Regions from separate parts of the Homo sapiens genome. Here region 1 is linked to region 2. The links come from fine-mapping of genetic effects on gene expression. A gene starts in region 2. The other region holds a variant in brackets. All regions are shown on one strand. Distances are from middle to middle. Region 1 overlaps ISLR (immunoglobulin superfamily containing leucine rich repeat). Region 2 holds the start of ISLR2 (immunoglobulin superfamily containing leucine rich repeat 2).

Evidence for each region. PIP is the estimated chance that this variant, and not a neighbour inherited with it, causes the effect.
Region 1: its variant is fine-mapped to the expression of ISLR2 in left ventricle (GTEx, PIP 0.90).

Annotation. Positions count from the first base shown.
Region 1 is chr15:74,175,954-74,184,273 of GRCh38, reverse strand. It overlaps ISLR (immunoglobulin superfamily containing leucine rich repeat), which reads right to left. Exons shown (of 2, transcript NM_005545.4): 2 at 7,403-8,320. The coding sequence ends at 8,129. STRA6 (signaling receptor and transporter of retinol STRA6) reads left to right here. Exons shown (of 19, transcript NM_022369.4): 14 at 285-418; 15 at 1,814-1,931; 16 at 2,012-2,113; 17 at 2,816-2,979; 18 at 3,337-3,492; 19 at 4,031-4,808. The coding sequence ends at 4,194. Among named protein-coding and RNA genes, the nearest start is that of ISLR, 6.4 kb to the right of the region's middle. RefSeq lists enhancers at 1-97, 2,602-3,138, 5,153-5,322, 7,230-7,746. The variant C/T (reference allele first, on the strand shown) is at 3,899.
Region 2 is chr15:74,126,070-74,134,389 of GRCh38, reverse strand. ISLR2 (immunoglobulin superfamily containing leucine rich repeat 2) reads right to left here and starts at 3,804. Exons shown (of 3, transcript NM_020851.3): 1 at 3,769-3,804; 2 at 3,074-3,183; 3 at 1-1,643. The coding sequence starts at 1,635. LOC283731 (a long non-coding RNA gene) reads left to right here and starts at 5,112. Exons shown (of 3, transcript NR_152622.1): 1 at 5,112-5,425; 2 at 5,766-6,374; 3 at 6,657-8,017. RefSeq lists a silencer at 2,988-3,187 and enhancers at 2,680-3,588, 3,589-4,498.

The sequences.
Region 1 (8,320 bases), 50 kb before region 2:
TCACTTCCATTCTCACTGTTGTTTCTCACTTTTCTGACTTGGCTCAGGTTGAGCCTTCTGCCTCGTTTTGTATTCCTCGTTCACTGTTTAAGACTACCCAGATATCACCTCTTCCAGATATCTTGGGTTAGTGGCCTCCTCCTGGCTCCCACAGTTCTGGGCTTCCCTGCTGATGGCTGTGAGTTGAAATTCTATTGGGAGTTTGGCCAGTTGCTGGCCCAGAGGAGGATTTAGGAAGAGTGTGTTGCTCCCTGAGGTCTCTGCCTCCCTGGCTCCCACCCCAGGACCAACCTTCGAGCTCTGCACCGAGGAGCTGCCCTGGACTTGAGTCCCTTGCATCGGAGTCCCCATCCCTCCCGCCAAGCCATATTCTGTTGGATGAGCTTCAGTGCCTACCAGACAGCCTTTATCTGCCTTGGTGAGCCTCCCTTGCCCGCCACACCCAGCCTTGGCCTGGGCCTCCCCTCAGACACTGGCCTCAGTTGGGGAGAAGAGTGCTCAGCAAGTACTGCCCTCAGAGTTTGTCTGGGAATGCTCTGGGGCAGCAGCAAGAAGGAGGGACCCCCCTGCCTTCCCTGCCCTTAAGAAGCTTATTCAGGATGGGGGTACAGGAGCCCTCGGGAAATTGAGTGTGTACCCTCCACATGGAGATGAACCCTGGGTGCCACCAAGTATTCACATGGGGGTGGACCCAGGTCTGGAGGTGTCAAATTCAAAATGGTACATTCCTGGCTGGGCTCAGTGGCTCACACCTGTAATCCCAGCACTTTGGGAGGCTGAGGCAGGTGGATCACGAAGTCAGGAGATGAAGACCAGCCTGGCCAACATGGTGAGACCCCGTCTCTACTAAAAATACAAAAATTAGCCGGGTATGGTGGTGTGCACCTGCAGTTCCAGCTATTCGGGAGGATGAGGCAGGAGAATCGCTTGAACCCAGGAGGTGGAGGTTGCAGTGAGCCGAGATTGCACCACTGCGCTCCAGCTTAAGAAAGGGCTGTGTCACATTTGGCTACCTACAAAGGTAATGAGATCCCTGTCACTGGGGGTATGCAAGCAGAGTTCCATGGATATTGTTGCAGTCTGCAAAGGGGGTCCTGCCCTGAGAGAGTTGGACCAGATAACCTTCCAGGACCCCTACCAGCCCCAAGTTTCTGACTCTCCCCTTGGGTACTGCAGTGAGAAAAGCACTCTGAATGGTGAGGGGCTGTGGCCTGGGTTGCACATCCAAGGGCCTTGTATCTCTCCCTCCAGTTCCTTCCATTCTCACCTCCTTGCGGGAGGAGAAGGATGGTAAAGGAGTAGATGAATTACTAGGACAAAAGTCATAGCGTCTCTTCTTGGTAGCCCTTATGCCTCCAGGCCCTTTTGTAGACATCATTCTCTAATCAGTTGGCCAGATTATTTCAATAGACAGTCCTTGGGCACCTACCGTATGCCAGGCTCTGGCTTGAAGGAATGCAAACATCAGTTTAATATGTAGCCTTATCCCCCAGTAACTCAAACTCAGGAGAAACTGGAGGGAAATAACATTTGCAAAGTATTTTGTGATTTTAAGAGTTTCCACAGACATTATCTCATTGGATCCTTACAACAGCCTCTGAGGTAGGGACTATTATCCCCATTTTACAGAGGAAGAAACTGAGGCTCAATGAAGTAAAGTGATTTGTTCAAGGCAGCATAGCTAGGCAGTGGCAGAGCAGAGATCTAAAACCAGGCCTGCCCAATCCCAAAGCCCTTGGTTCTGGGGGCAGCGGGGATGGCCAGTTTTCATGGAACCTGTTTTCTGTCCCCCTGCCACTCCCGCCCCTGGCAGGGCTCCTGGTGCAGCAGATCATCTTCTTCCTGGGAACCACGGCCCTGGCCTTCCTGGTGCTCATGCCTGTGCTCCATGGCAGGAACCTCCTGCTCTTCCGTTCCCTGGAGTCCTCGTGGTGAGTGAAACAAGACATGGAGGGCTCAGGGACTCCTTAGAGGTCCGCTAACAGCGACCACCTCCCCACCCCACTGGCAGGCCCTTCTGGCTGACTTTGGCCCTGGCTGTGATCCTGCAGAACATGGCAGCCCATTGGGTCTTCCTGGAGACTCATGATGGACACCCACAGCTGACCAACCGGTGAGGTGGCATCTGGGCTTGTGGCTCCCTCAGGCCCTCGCCTCTTCTTCGGTGTCTCTCTCTTTTTGTGTCCTCCCTCCACTGCCATCTATCCCTTCTCTCTATCAAGGAACCCAGATGATAGTAGAAAGAGCTTGCCTTACCCATAGAGAAAAGGGACAATGGCTCAGCCCACTCCAAAGTACCTCTCTACATACCCGGCATGGGGCTGGAAGTACCCCCGTGAACCTTTCTTGCTTTGGGAATCGGTACTGCTCTCCCCTGGATCCTCTGTTTCCTTAAAACCATGCCCCTCCCCACTTTGTAGCAAGGGAGTTCCCTGTCAGATGACAAGTCTGTGGGAGAACCTTGGCTCCCAGGGGAACTTGGAATTAGCAGACAGGGGACCCAGAAAAGGGAGGTGGGAGGCATCAGGGTCATAGAAAGACTCAGATGGACCTAGAGTTAAAGCCCAGCTCTGCCACTGAATAGCTGACAGCCTTGGCTAAGTCTCCCAATCTCTCTGGGCCTCAGTTTCCCATCTCCCAGCATGGTGGGTTGAAAGAGAGAAGGCCTTGCCCAGGGTGGGGTGCACAGAAGACATAGCAATAAATGGTAGGCACTCAGTAAATACACAGCAGTTCTGGGCATCCAGGTCTGACACTGACCCTGGGGAGGGAGCTCTGGGGAACGGCCTGCCTCAGCTTTCTTCTCCCATCCTAGGCGAGTGCTCTATGCAGCCACCTTTCTTCTCTTCCCCCTCAATGTGCTGGTGGGTGCCATGGTGGCCACCTGGCGAGTGCTCCTCTCTGCCCTCTACAACGCCATCCACCTTGGCCAGATGGACCTCAGCCTGCTGCCACCGAGAGCCGCCACTCTCGACCCCGGTAAGGTCACTGGGCGGGGCTGGAGGATTGCTCAGGCTACCCAAGCAGTGAGGAAGGCATCTGCCCTGCCCCAGGGCCGTGCCAGCTGATCAGTTCACACCGATGCCTGTAGCTGCATGTGCCACCTGTGTGCCCCTGCGCTGTGCCTCCTGTGGCCCTGCAGCACGTGCAGTGGATGTGGGGTGTTCTAGCAGGTCCACACGTGCCCATGCAGCCAATGTGCCACGTGCTTGGTGTGTCGACATGCTTGGATGCAGGGAGTGCACGTGCACTCCCTGTGTGTGTGTTAGGGGATGTCTGGATGCCTCCAGTGTGGCCCCTGCTCCCCCAGCATTGCCATCCGCCACCCCACCCCAGGCTACTACACGTACCGAAACTTCTTGAAGATTGAAGTCAGCCAGTCGCATCCAGCCATGACAGCCTTCTGCTCCCTGCTCCTGCAAGCGCAGAGCCTCCTACCCAGGACCATGGCAGCCCCCCAGGACAGCCTCAGACCAGGGGAGGAAGACGAAGGTGCGCCCTCCCACTGGGAATGGGGGAATAGAGCCTACCCAGCTTCTTCTAGGAAGGATGTGTGCCCCTCCCCAGCACACAGAGTGAGCGCCAGGAAAATTCTCACTTCCTCTCTTCCTTGGCTGCCTTTGGTCACCCCTCCTGGTCTGATCTCAGGGTGATTTTTTCCATGATATGAACACACACATACACACACCATATGTGTGCACACAGAGAGAATGAAACAGCTGCCTTCCTAAGGGGCTCCGTCACTGCCCCCGCTTCTCCCTTGGGGCAGGGAGTATGACTCCTCCTTTCCTTCTGCCCAGAAGTGTGTGTAGGGAGGGGACACTAAGCCAGCTCCAGACCCTTGTCCCACCCAGCTTCCAGTCCATCCACAGACCTCACCCCCCACTTCCATGTGCTG[C/T]CTGCAGGGGACATCCTAAGCCTCACGACCTGCACACGCCTGGGATTTTCAGGCTCTCTGATCAGGTCTGAGGGCCAGGGAGGGTTGGCTGGGTGTTTGCTGAGTGACTCACAGAAAGTCCGTCTCTCTCAGGGATGCAGCTGCTACAGACAAAGGACTCCATGGCCAAGGGAGCTAGGCCCGGGGCCAGCCGCGGCAGGGCTCGCTGGGGTCTGGCCTACACGCTGCTGCACAACCCAACCCTGCAGGTCTTCCGCAAGACGGCCCTGTTGGGTGCCAATGGTGCCCAGCCCTGAGGGCAGGGAAGGTCAACCCACCTGCCCATCTGTGCTGAGGCATGTTCCTGCCTACCATCCTCCTCCCTCCCCGGCTCTCCTCCCAGCATCACACCAGCCATGCAGCCAGCAGGTCCTCCGGATCACTGTGGTTGGGTGGAGGTCTGTCTGCACTGGGAGCCTCAGGAGGGCTCTGCTCCACCCACTTGGCTATGGGAGAGCCAGCAGGGGTTCTGGAGAAAGAAACTGGTGGGTTAGGGCCTTGGTCCAGGAGCCAGTTGAGCCAGGGCAGCCACATCCAGGCGTCTCCCTACCCTGGCTCTGCCATCAGCCTTGAAGGGCCTCGATGAAGCCTTCTCTGGAACCACTCCAGCCCAGCTCCACCTCAGCCTTGGCCTTCACGCTGTGGAAGCAGCCAAGGCACTTCCTCACCCCCTCAGCGCCACGGACCTCTCTGGGGAGTGGCCGGAAAGCTCCCGGGCCTCTGGCCTGCAGGGCAGCCCAAGTCATGACTCAGACCAGGTCCCACACTGAGCTGCCCACACTCGAGAGCCAGATATTTTTGTAGTTTTTATGCCTTTGGCTATTATGAAAGAGGTTAGTGTGTTCCCTGCAATAAACTTGTTCCTGAGAAACTGTCCTCATAGCGGGAGGGGTATGCAGGGAAAACCCCGCCTACACTGTCAGGAACACTGTGCATTGATGGGGATGGGGCTTGGGGTGTTCTGGTCACATGCTGGGCCAGACACTGGGTGGAAGGCAGAACCCATAGCTGCATCCTTTTGGGTGGCAAAGAGACTGGGGACCCTATGATGCCACCCCTGAGCCATGTGAATGCTGGCTTTGGAAGTGGGACTTATTCTGGGTCTTGAAGAAGGGGCAGGATCTGGGGAGGAGAAGCGACTTCAGGAATGCTGGGGAAGCAGTGTGACTCCAGGTGTGGAGGTAGGAAGGGGCGTGTCACATGGGGGGACATAGCGTAGGCTGTCCTGATGGGAGGAGAATGAGAATACGGAGGGGAAAGGAGGGTGGAGACAGACTGGGGTCTTTTCCCTACTGGGGGCTTGGTGGAGGTGGAGGGCGGGGTATATGAATAAAGAACATGCCCTGGGTCCACTGAGGGGCTGGGGGCTACAGAGGGTAGGAAGATGTGGCCACCCTACAGATCTAGGTCAGCAGGGCCTTGAGAAATGCCTGCACAGTTAGTGGAGATCAACAGTCCCCTGCCCCAAGCTCAGGTTCCTGCTACAGCCTCAAATACCTGTAAAGCCAGGGGTGGGGTCAGGGACCTGAAACCCACTTTCAAGGCTGCCCCGAGGAGGCCAAAGAGGGCACACTGTGATCCCACTGCAGCCCGTTGAAAAAGGCTTCCTGACCTTGTTTCAGCAACTAACAGGGTCTCAGGGGAGGAGAATCCAGGTTCCCAGAGAAAGGGGGCCTGTTCACATTGGGGATGGGGGAACATCCAGGAAGGCTTTCTGGAGGTGGTGATGCCAGAGCCCACTCTCAAAGACTGACTTAGCCAAATGAAGAACAGGGAAAGGGTGCCTGGGCGGAGGGAACAGTATAAGCAAAGGTGCAGAGGATGGCACACCATGGAACATTAAGGGAACAATTAAATAGCTGTTCCAAGAAGAGGAAGGAAGGGTGCGCTTGTTGGAGGAGCAGGTCAGAGAGGCTCTAAGTGGGGAATTCAGGCTTTACCTGGAGGGCAGTGGGGACCACGGAAGACCTTAAAGCAGGGGAGCAGCTAGTCCACTCAAGGCACAGCCATTCCCTGTGTTAGGTCTTAGGTCCATGTCCTACTCCAAGAAGCCAAGCCACTCAGCTAGGAATGGAGCCAGGGATGTCCAAGTCAGGCTGGGAATATCAAGCCTTAGGCAATCAGAGTCTATTGGACCATGAAGTAGCACCTAGTCCTACCATGTCATTTGGTTTTTGAGGCAACTGAAGCCCAGACGTGGGCAATGACTTACCCAAGGTGGCCTAGCGCATGGAATTTGGCTCCATCCTGCTGTTTTCCACCAGACGTGAGTCATTTTTTTCAACTTTTATTTTAGATTAGGAGTCATTCTTGATACATGCTGCTGGTGACATCAGCTCAGCAGGAGCTGCAAGTTGATGAGGGGAGAGTGGGCAGGGGGAGGTGCTGTATGTGGACCTGGAGGGAGGGAATGGGGCTGGCCAGCAGCCAAGGCTCACAGCTGCTACCCCAGACTCCTTAGCATCCTGCCTCCACTTTGCTGAGCTCAGCAGTTCTGGGAGCTCTGGAGAAAGGCCACAGAGCCTCTCCCCCAGGCCATTGTCTCTGCATGCAGCATCCTCGATCTTGAAAGGGATGGGATAGAGGCAGTAGGAAGACATATATCCTACCTGGCACAGATAGGAGGTTGTGCAGAGTCTCCAGGTTAGGACCTCATCCTTATGCTCCTCATCTGGAGAGGCTGAAGGTTGCTGTACACACACACACACACATGCACTGGAGAGGCTGAAGGTTGCTGTACACACACACACACGCACCGCTCAGGTTGCTGTACACACACACACACACACACACACACACACACACACACGGCCCAGGCCAGTTACTGATCCACTTGCTCTGTGGGGAAAGATTCCTACAGGGAATCTGCAGTCCTCATTTGGACTTTCCTCTTGGAATACCATTTCTTCTTTGGGAGAAAGATAAGTACGATTTGTTTCCCCCCTGGTTTCTCCCTCAAATATGTAAATATGTTCTCTTATTCCCAGTCTCTCTGGGGCTTTCTCCTCCTCTGTCCTGTGTCCCCTTCTCCTCATCTGTCTCCTCCATCTTGCCCCACCTGTCCCCTCTTTCCTCTTCATTCCTAACATCTCTTCCAGGAGCAGGACAGGGAAGAGGAGCTACCACCCAGGCACTTCCATTTCCTTGCGCCTTTCCAAAATGCCTCTCTTGAAGCCACTGCTGACATCAGGCGCTGCTCAGGGTCGCCAGCCACCCCAGGCTCCTGCCCCCAGCTGTCCTGTGGGATGGTTTGGAGGAAGGGAACATCTGCAGCTCAGCTCACCGCAAGGCCCAGCCCCTGACACAGCATCGGGCCAGCACTCCTGTGCCTCCACAGTCTGTTGGAGTCTCAGAGGCCCCTGCCACTGTGGGCAGGCAGGCTGGCTGCCCTGACTCTTCAGCTCCTGATCCTATCTCCCAGCAGAGGCTCCTAGATCCAGACAAAATTCCAGGCAGACACGGAGGGGCATCAGAAATGCTGTTTATTTCTCTGCTGCTCCCAAGCTGGCTGGCCTTTGCAGAGGAGCAGACAACAGATGCATAGTTGGGGAGAAAGGGAGGACAGGTTCCAGGATAGAGGTTGCAGGCTGAGGGAGGAAGGGTAAGAGGAAGGAAGGCCATCCTGGATCCCCACATTTCAGTCTCAGATGAGGACAAAGGGACTCCCAAGCCCCCAAATCATCAGAAAACAGCAAGGAGCAGGAGGAGCTTGAGCAGGCCCCAGGGAGCCTCAGAGCCATACCAGCCACTGTCTACTTCCCATCCTCCTCTCCCATTCCCTGTCTGCTTCAGACCACCTCCCAGCTAAGCCCCAGCTCCATTCCCCCAATCCTGGCCCTTGCCAGCTTGACAGTCACAGTGCCTGGAATTCCACCACTGAGGCTTCTCCCAGTTGGATTAGGACGTCGCCCCGTTAGCATGCTGCCCCTGAGAGGAGAGCACAGGCAATGCTGTTAGCAGCAATGAGCACCGCAGACAGTGAGTTAGGGGATCAAATTCTATCCTAGTCACTAGTTTGGAGCAGGTCTAGAAGTTGGGGATAGCAGGTGCTCTAGAAGAGATTAGAAGGAGAGGTAGGAAAATGTGAAGTCACCCATGCAGGCCTCAGGAGTTGCCAACCCCAGACCCCTGCAGCACTTAAAGGGGCATTGGTAGGGGCAAGGGGAGGAGTTAGGGAAGCCCTGGGTGGGGCTAGAAGGAGGTGAGGAAGAAGAAGAGGAGGAGGCTTTGGCCCAGCAGGAGCAGGCCTGGGGGCAGCTGCCCAGGGACCCCTTCTGCGACTGCAGCCTCAGGGTTCCCAGCACGGCTGAGGTAGATGATGACCACATTGTCCTCCGGCCCTGATGGCTGCACCTCGTTGTCAACCGTATAGCAGCCCTTTCC
Region 2 (8,320 bases):
GCGGGACCACTGCACTGCCGCGCCGCCCCCCGCTGGACACAGATAGAGTAGGCGCAGGGGTCGCCGCCCGGGTCGCGGGGCTCCGCCAGCCCCGCCGGGCCCAGGGCCCCAGCGCGCAGCCAGCGGAGTCAGCTGCACCCGCGCCTCGCGCTCCGCCACATCCAGCGCGATGACGCCCAGCTCGAAGACGTGCGGCTTGAGCTCTGCGCTCTGGTTGAACGCGTGGTTAGAAACGTACCGAGAGGGGTCCCCGTTGCCACAGCGCTGCTCCTCCGCCGGGTCCGCGAGGATCTGGTCTTCGGCCTCCTCTCCCTCACTTGTGTCCTCCTCCGGCTCCGTCTCGGTCTCCCCGAGAATGCTGACCTTGGCCAGGCCTTGGCCTTTGATTTTGCCCTCGGGTTTGGAAGGCAGGACGCTGTTGCCCCGGCCCTTGGCTGTGGACTTGCGCTCAGAGGTCGGGGCCTGTCCGTCGGGTTCTCCCCCGGCGCCAGGCGCGTGTTTTGGGGGCCCGGTTGCTGCCACCGCCACGCGTATTGACGTAGAGTTGGCGCCCAGCTCATTGTGTGCACGGCAAGTGTAGACGCCCGCCTCCTTGGCACTCAGGAGGGGCACCAACAGGGAGCCATTTGCGAGGGCCAGGAAGCGCGGTGTGGCTGGGGGCGCCGGCCAAGCGGGTGCTGGAGTCGGCGTTTGGGCTTGGGTCTGCGTCAGCAAATCCCCATCTCCTTCTCCCTCTCCTTCCTCCGCCCCAACCCCGTCGTCCTCCCCGCTCAGAACCGGTGGCTCTAAGACTACGGTGCCACCGGGGATCTGAAGTTGCCATTGCAGGCGAGGCGTAGGGTGGCCGTCGGCGATGCAGTGTAACACGAACGCCAGTCCTGCGCGCAGTGGGGTGCCGGGTGCTTCAAGCGGTGGCTCGGCACTCAGATGCACGCTGGGCGGTGCACAGGGCAGGGCGGGCAGGCGGTACACCGGCACCCCCTGCAGCGCGGGAGGCGAGGCACAAGCAATGGAGTCGGGCTCGGGTAAGGACACCCGGGTGCTCGCGGCCCAGGCCTGCAGCCACACAAGGCCGCAGCCGCAGTGGAAGGGATTGTGATAGAGTTGCAAGTGTGACAGCGCGCTAAGCGCGTCGAAGGTGCCAGGCGCCAGCGTACGCAGCCGGTTGTTGTTGATGCGCAGGGAACGCAGGTCGGGTAGCGCACCGAGTGCGTCCCGGGGCAGAGAGCCCAGGCGGTTGTGGTTCATTTTGAGCAGCTGCAGCGCGCTCAGGTTGCGCAGGTCGCTCCACGGAAAGCTGGATATGAAGTTGTGGCTCAGATCGAGGTTCTTGAGCTGACTCAGCACGGCCAGTGCGCCTGGCTCCACGGTGCGCACCTCATTGTGCGCCAGCCACAGCGACGTGACCTGTGTGACGTCGGCGAAGGCCCCGCGCCGCAGCACAGTGATCTTGTTCGCGGACAGACTAAGCGTCGTCACGTTGGCAGGCAGTCCTTCCGGCACCTCACGCAACTCTTTGTAAGCGCAGTCCGCGAACTGGTGAGCGTACTTGTCCACGCAGGCGCACGGCTCCGGGCATGATCCGGCCACTCCTAGAAGCGCCCAGACCAACCACAGGGCCCGAAGGGGGAACATCGCGGCTCCTGCAGATGGAAGCCAGGTGAAGAAGAAAGAAGGTGACTCACTGAACCCCAGCTTACCTCCCCTATCAAGCTGTGCCTCCGCAAGCCCGTTTAGCACTAGTTCCAGGGCTCCGGTAACCTCCTCTATGGCCAGGAGCCTCTCTGAAGTGAAGGTCAATAAAAATCTCGAGGTTCAACGGATGCTCCCTCCCAGGGCCCTAATTTCCTTTTCCAGCGGCCCGGTATATCGCCCTTTTTTCTCTTCCTACTCCTTCCTTCACGCTGGAGCTGGCCCCTCCGTGGGCTCCGCAGCTCGCCCATCTCCAGCGGGCTCCTCACGTACCCCTCTCTGTGTTTCTAAGCCTTCGTTTAACCTGGTGAAATGGATCCTACCCAAGAAGGACATTTTTGTCCGTGACTGGCTGTCCTCCCTGGAACCTTTGTCCCACGCACAGCACTCGCACACACGCCCATGCAGGCACACAACAATACAAACAGACGCGGGGCTTCATAATCAAACCGCCAACTTCTGCAGGGGTTTAGAGGACCTGATGCTCAATTAGGAGGCTCACAACACATTTCCTAAACTCACAAACACATATGCACCCAGACATGGACACAATAGACCCTGCAGACCTCATTGTTCTCTTAACCAGCATTTGTACGTGTTTTCCACCACGGTACAAAGCGCTTTCCTGTCCATTGTGACAATTGACAGACACAAGGACACAAGTCCTCACACGAACCGACCCACCCACAAGAACACAGGCATGTGCCTGTGTGTGCATACAGCCCTCCACTGTGACCGAAACCCAGCAGAGAAGCAATAGGAGGACCTGCACTGCACGACTTGAGATGTGGGATCTGGGGAAGCCCATCCCCATGCCCTACTGCATCTAAGGCCAAAGTCACCTGCCCGGGGCTGCAGCTCCTGTGAGGGGAGAAGAAGGGCTGCTCTGCCAACCTTCCTTACGGGGAAGGAGGTTCTCCCCCATGTTTGGACCAGGTGTGTTGGGAAAGCGGTCACTAGAGCTTCCTCTCAGGTCCCTCAGGCGGCTCCCATTGGGCAGAGGCGTCCTCAGCCAACAGGTCATGGGGCTGCCACTAGCTAATGAAGCTGGAGAAGATGAAAGATTCTGCGCCTTTCTCCACAGCTCTGCGGTGCCTAAGGACCCCCTCCCCATAACACCTTAAGCCCGGTCACACAAACGAACTTGCACAGACTCCCTGCCCCCATTTGGAGCGCCTGTCAGGTTTGGCAGAGCCCCTCCCACAACTTGTCTTTGGGAACCTGCTCCTTCACTCTGCCTTTGCTCTTCTGGGAGGGTCCCTTCCCTCCCTTCCCGGTTCCTGCCAGACAGCACCCCCACCAGCCCCGCACCCCATCAGGTGCCCTAGGCTGGACCTAACCCCACCTGGGTCAAGGTTGTGGGGTGGCCCCCATTGCTTACCCAATATTCGCCGACTCTCAGTAAATGTCCTGGGGCTGAAACCCCTTCTCCAGACCCGGCGTGGCAGAGCAGGGAAGATAGCCCAAGCAAGATACACGCATGTGTTGTGGCTGTGGGGAAAACGGGGGGCGGGGGGCAAAGAAAGGGACAGGTAAGTTTGGGGACTTGGTGGCCCCAAAGTACCACTTCAATTTTTCCTTTTGCGTCCGTTTCCCCCACCTCTCTGGCTGCAGGTTGGAGAAAGTCCTTGCGCACTCCCGGGCCTGGCGGGGACGCGCATAGCCTCTCCCGCCTCCTGCTTGGTCTACTTTTGTTAAAGCCACGGAGACCCTCCCCAAGGCCAAGACACGTCGGTCATAAGGGGCATCCCACGCCCACTGTCCTGGCTGGGCTCTTCGCAGCCTACTGCACCCCCATAACCCACGTACCCCCACATTTACACAGCCGCTGGCATTGTTACTGTCCCTGATCACACCACCTCCCCCACCCCACGTTCAAACACATTCGCGCACACAGTCCCTCACACCCTCCCCATAGCCGACCTTCACAGTTTACAATCATCCATGGTCAGGTAATAATCGCATCAATGTGTTCAGCCCCTGCTACATTCACACGCATTTTCACGGGCACACCTGCACCCGGGACACTTACCGTTCTCCTCTCGCACACGCATACACACATTCACGCGAACTCACCCTCACGCGCCTGTCCCGCCAGCGCCCGCGAGCTTCGCTGCTAATTGAATGCAAGCCGCTTTTACGCCCTGCAACACGTGAGACAAACCATCTTTGAGGAATTTGGGGGAAGGAAAGGCGCGCGGCTGAAGTGGGGGGGGAAGGCGTGTCTTTGCCTTTAAACTCTTTTTGCAAATGCAGGCGGTGGCACCGACAGACTTCGAGCGGGACCCGCTGAGCTGCGCGCAGCCGAGCTCGCGCGGACCCTTCCCTCCCGCACCCCCCGCTGCTAGCCGCCTCCTCCCCGAAGCCACGTTCAACATGATGCATAATTGATAGTGTTAGCAGAGCGCCGCACCCTCCCTACCATTTTTGCCTGGATCTGGGCTGATATAAGCCCTAGTCTCCCCCGCCCCGCCGCCCCAACCCCCCCGCCCCGCCTGCTAGTCTAACCCGACACCAGAACGCACAGCCCTGCAGGGCGTGCTGGGAAGGGACACCCCCCTCCCCAGCCCACCGCAGCCCTGCCCAGCCTCTTAAGCCGGAACTCTTTACTTCTGGTCTTTTGTGGCTAAACCAGCGCTTGAAGCCCACTGCCCGACGCGTTGGCCTGCGCGCACCGCGGGACAGGTGGAGCAGGGGGAAGCTCTCTCGAGCGCACCCAAGCACCTCACTCCAGGTCTTGCCTGCTCCAGGAGAACGGGGCACGGAAGCTGCAGCAGACAGTAGCACAGACAAGGATGGTGGCAAAACGTCCGCTACTCTTGAGCACGGTGGGCTGGGGACTTCAGGCCCGAGCATTTCTCCCATATCTGCCCCCCATATCTTCACAGCCTCTCAAGCAGACACACGGTCAACCCCACACGCACTATCCCCCAAGCCGCGGTGGCCCCTCACCGCCCCGCCGTCTCACACCCTCACACAACAGCCGGCTTCGGCAGACTCGCTGTTCCCGACTGTCGCTCCCTAGCTCTGATGAAACCCCGACATTTCTTTCAGCGACGAGGAGGCGGAGGCGCGGCGATGTCGAGGCATTTGGCTAAAACCCGGTTTCCGCCCCCCTGCGCTGCCCACGTTAGCCCTGGAGACAGCTACCGGCCATAACCAGGAAAGGGGTTCAGGCTCCGGGAGACACGCAGAATCCCCACCCATTCTGTAGCCACTGAGCTCTCTGGGAGCACCAAGCCCCACAGCCATCACCCCGGGCCATGGGGGTCTCTCGATGGCGAGGGTTTGGGGCTTCCGTGGAGATCAATACCCCGATTTGAGTGTTGAGCATCTTAATGAGCTAGGGGAGGGGGTGGGGAAGAGAGACAGGCTAAGAGCGCAGCGTCTAAAGAGACCACCCGGCCCGGGGTTCCGAGGCTGCTTTGTAAATTAAATATGAACAGACTGGTGCGCTCACACTCCAAGCGTCCCTCCCTCTCCCCTACTCCTGCCGTCGCTACGGGCGGCCCAGCGGGCTGAGACCATCGCATCTTGCTCAGCCCCAGTTCAGAACACAGAACTTCACACCGCCTGCTCGGGCCTGGAGTCCCCCCCCGCCGACCCATGGGGAGGGCGCAAGGCGCCTTTCAGGGAAGGTGTCTTCGAAAATGGTCGAGGGGTGAGAGCACTGTGACCCGTCCCTGCCGGGGATCCTGTGGTGGGACAGCCAGGATTGGGTCCCTAGCCCGGGGTGAGTCCCTGAGGTTTCTAGGCCTTGTGGGGTCGGGAGAAGGAGGCAGACGGCGGGGCCAGCACACCCTTCTTTGTCTGCCGAACAAGGTGGGGGTGGGGGCGGGGAGCGGCGTCTTGGGCAGTTGTCCGGGTGTTGGGAACCCTGAGGGGGCGGTCTTGGGAGCCTGTGCCTGGGAAGGATATTTGGAGGCAGGGGCCCAGCAGCGGGAGCTGAGTCCGGTCCGGCATGGCGTGTCCAGGGGACTTTTCGGGACTGAGTGAGGGGCGCCAGGCGGGGAGGCTCAAGGCCCTCCGCCGGTTTTTACCTATTTTCTTTCTTTCTTTTTTGCCTTCCGCAGGGAGGCAGAATCTGGGTAATGGAAGGGAGAATGGGCTCGCTATCTGCCCAGAGCTTCCCTGGACTGCAGGAACCCGTCCTATAAGCAACCCCGAAACTTCGGGGCCCGAGGACCAGGGAAGACCCCCTTTCCTTGCTGTCTTGACAGGGTTGCAGAAGCCAAGGAGTTCGGCAGGGAGACGGGGCTCCTGGGGTGGTTAAGGACGCGGTGACCACCCCTGGGCGGGAGCTGACTCCCGCGGGCCCGGAGGCTCTAGCTCACTCTACAGCAAATGCTTTTGTTCCCGGAGGCTGCCCTGGGGGAAAGACGCCCCTTACCCCTGCCTTCGACCCTGGAGAGCCCAGTGCCCGCCCGGGCAGGGCTGGAGCCCGAGTCGCCCCAGGCAGAGTCCGCCGAGGCCTGGGGTGGGAGCCGCGACTTCTGGATCTGCCTCCGAGCTCAGCTAGAAGACTGCGCGCACCTCGTCCGGCGCCGTCCGGCGCGCAGAAGCGGGTCTAATGTTTATAACGTTAATAATGACAGTTAGGGAGGGCTGTGGAGCCGGGAACCAAGACCTCATCCCGCCGCCGCCCACGTCTTTGATCATTAAAGAAACAGACAACTAATCAGGTGTGTGGAAGTAGGGGTGGGGGAGGGGAGGGTGACAAGGTTCCAAGCCGCTAGCGCAGAGGGTCCCAGATTCAGAATCTGCCGAATCCAGACTAAGGCTTCTAACCAGGCTGGAGCCGACCCCAGACAGACCCAGGAATGGAGAGCTGGAGCCCCTGGCCGCTTTCTGCGGATCGACCCTTAACTTCAACGTCGCGAACCCGGAGCGTCGGGAGGGTGGGGAGGGTTGAAACCGGTTGGATCTGGGGACTTGCTCCAGCGACTCCATCCGCGCTGTTCTAGGGCCCAAGCCTGGTCCGCGCGCGCCCCCTGCTGGAAGCCGCTTGCCGGGCGCAGAGGCGGGTCAACGGCAGAGGGTGCTGGCTGGGCGAGGAAGATGTGGCTGGAACCCTGCACCAAGGCGACCGCTGCTCACGGCTCTGCAGTCCCGCGGCGCGATACGCCAGTGGGGCGCGCTTAACCAAAGTCCCGAGGCTTTACTTCCCGTGCCCACCCAGTCTATGTCCCAGGTATCAGCAACCTCTGGTCCACTACACAACACAGGCGCTGTCCCTACTTCGCGCTGCGTAGTTTCCAGTGCCCAGGGCGTCTCCTAATTCTTGAGCGACTAGTCCCTGGCACAAAACCTTCCTATACACCTCTCCCACTCTCCCTTCTCTCTGAGTCTTATGACTTTGTCAGGGGCCTATTAAAATAAATGTCTGAGATCTGGAAAAAAAAATCTGTTGGCGCTAACAGGGGCAAAGAAAACTGCAAAATTGGAAGTAATCGATGTTTGATTGAATGTTTAAGACATGCGACATTGTGCAAACGATTCTGTTGCAACTGCACTCAGAGTTGTACTTGCCCTTGTATTTTAATGTGGCACGCGGAGGATTTAATGGACTTGCCTAAAGATGTGGGAAGGGCCTCTGAGAATAAGAAAGCCGGGGCCCAGATGGGCATCAAACATCCCCAGCATAGCAGCCGGTTAAGGCTGCGGAGACCTTCCCCAAGGCTGCCCTCCAGTCAGAAGCCCCTGAACACTCACTACTTCCCATCTTTCAGCTTCTGCGCGCACAGACACACACACACACACACACACACACACACACACACACACACACACACACACACACAAATGTTCTCTCCAGCCCCACACCCTCAAGAAGCTGCTTTCCTTTTCTAATTTCCAGTCGAAAGATCACTCCTCAGGGAAGCCAGGCCCTGTTTATACTCCCTCCTCCGGCCTTTCCTTGTACAGGTTCTATGTAGTCGTCAGGCGGGCAGGTCCTAGCGTCAGACTCCATTATGTACTGACTGTGTGTCCTTAGCCAAGCTATTTAACCTCTCTGTGCCTCAAGAAAAAAAGGCATAAATAAGAGTACTGACCAGGCGCGGTGGCTCACACCTGTAATAATCCCAGCACTTTGGGAGGCCCAGGCGGGCGGATCACAAGGTCAGGAGTTCGAGACCAGCCTGACCAACATGGTGAAACCTCGTCTCTGCTAAAAATACAAAAATTAGCCGGGCGTGGTGGTGCATGCCTGTAATCCCAGCTACTCAGGAGGCTGAGGCAGGAGAATCTCGGGAGGCAGAGGTTGCAGTGAGCCGAGATAGTGCCACTGCATTCCGGCCTGGGCGACAGAGCGAGACTCTGTCTCAAAAAAAAAAAAAAAAAAAAAAAAATACCTATGCTTTTCGGTCACCTTGAGGATTAAATGAATCAATGTACGCAAAGCACTTAGTACCTGACACTTAGTGCTCAGTACTTGAGATACGTTTTTTATATAATAGCTGAATTAGCCATTATTATTGCCTTGCAGAGTGGGACACAAGTTTGATAAAAGGTTCTGCTGCACACACCCCTACAGGCTTGTGTCCTGCCTCCTCCACAGGGGAGCACCTTGGCTCTGCCCCCAGACCTCTTCACCACCACCACCCCCTTTGCACACACACACACCATG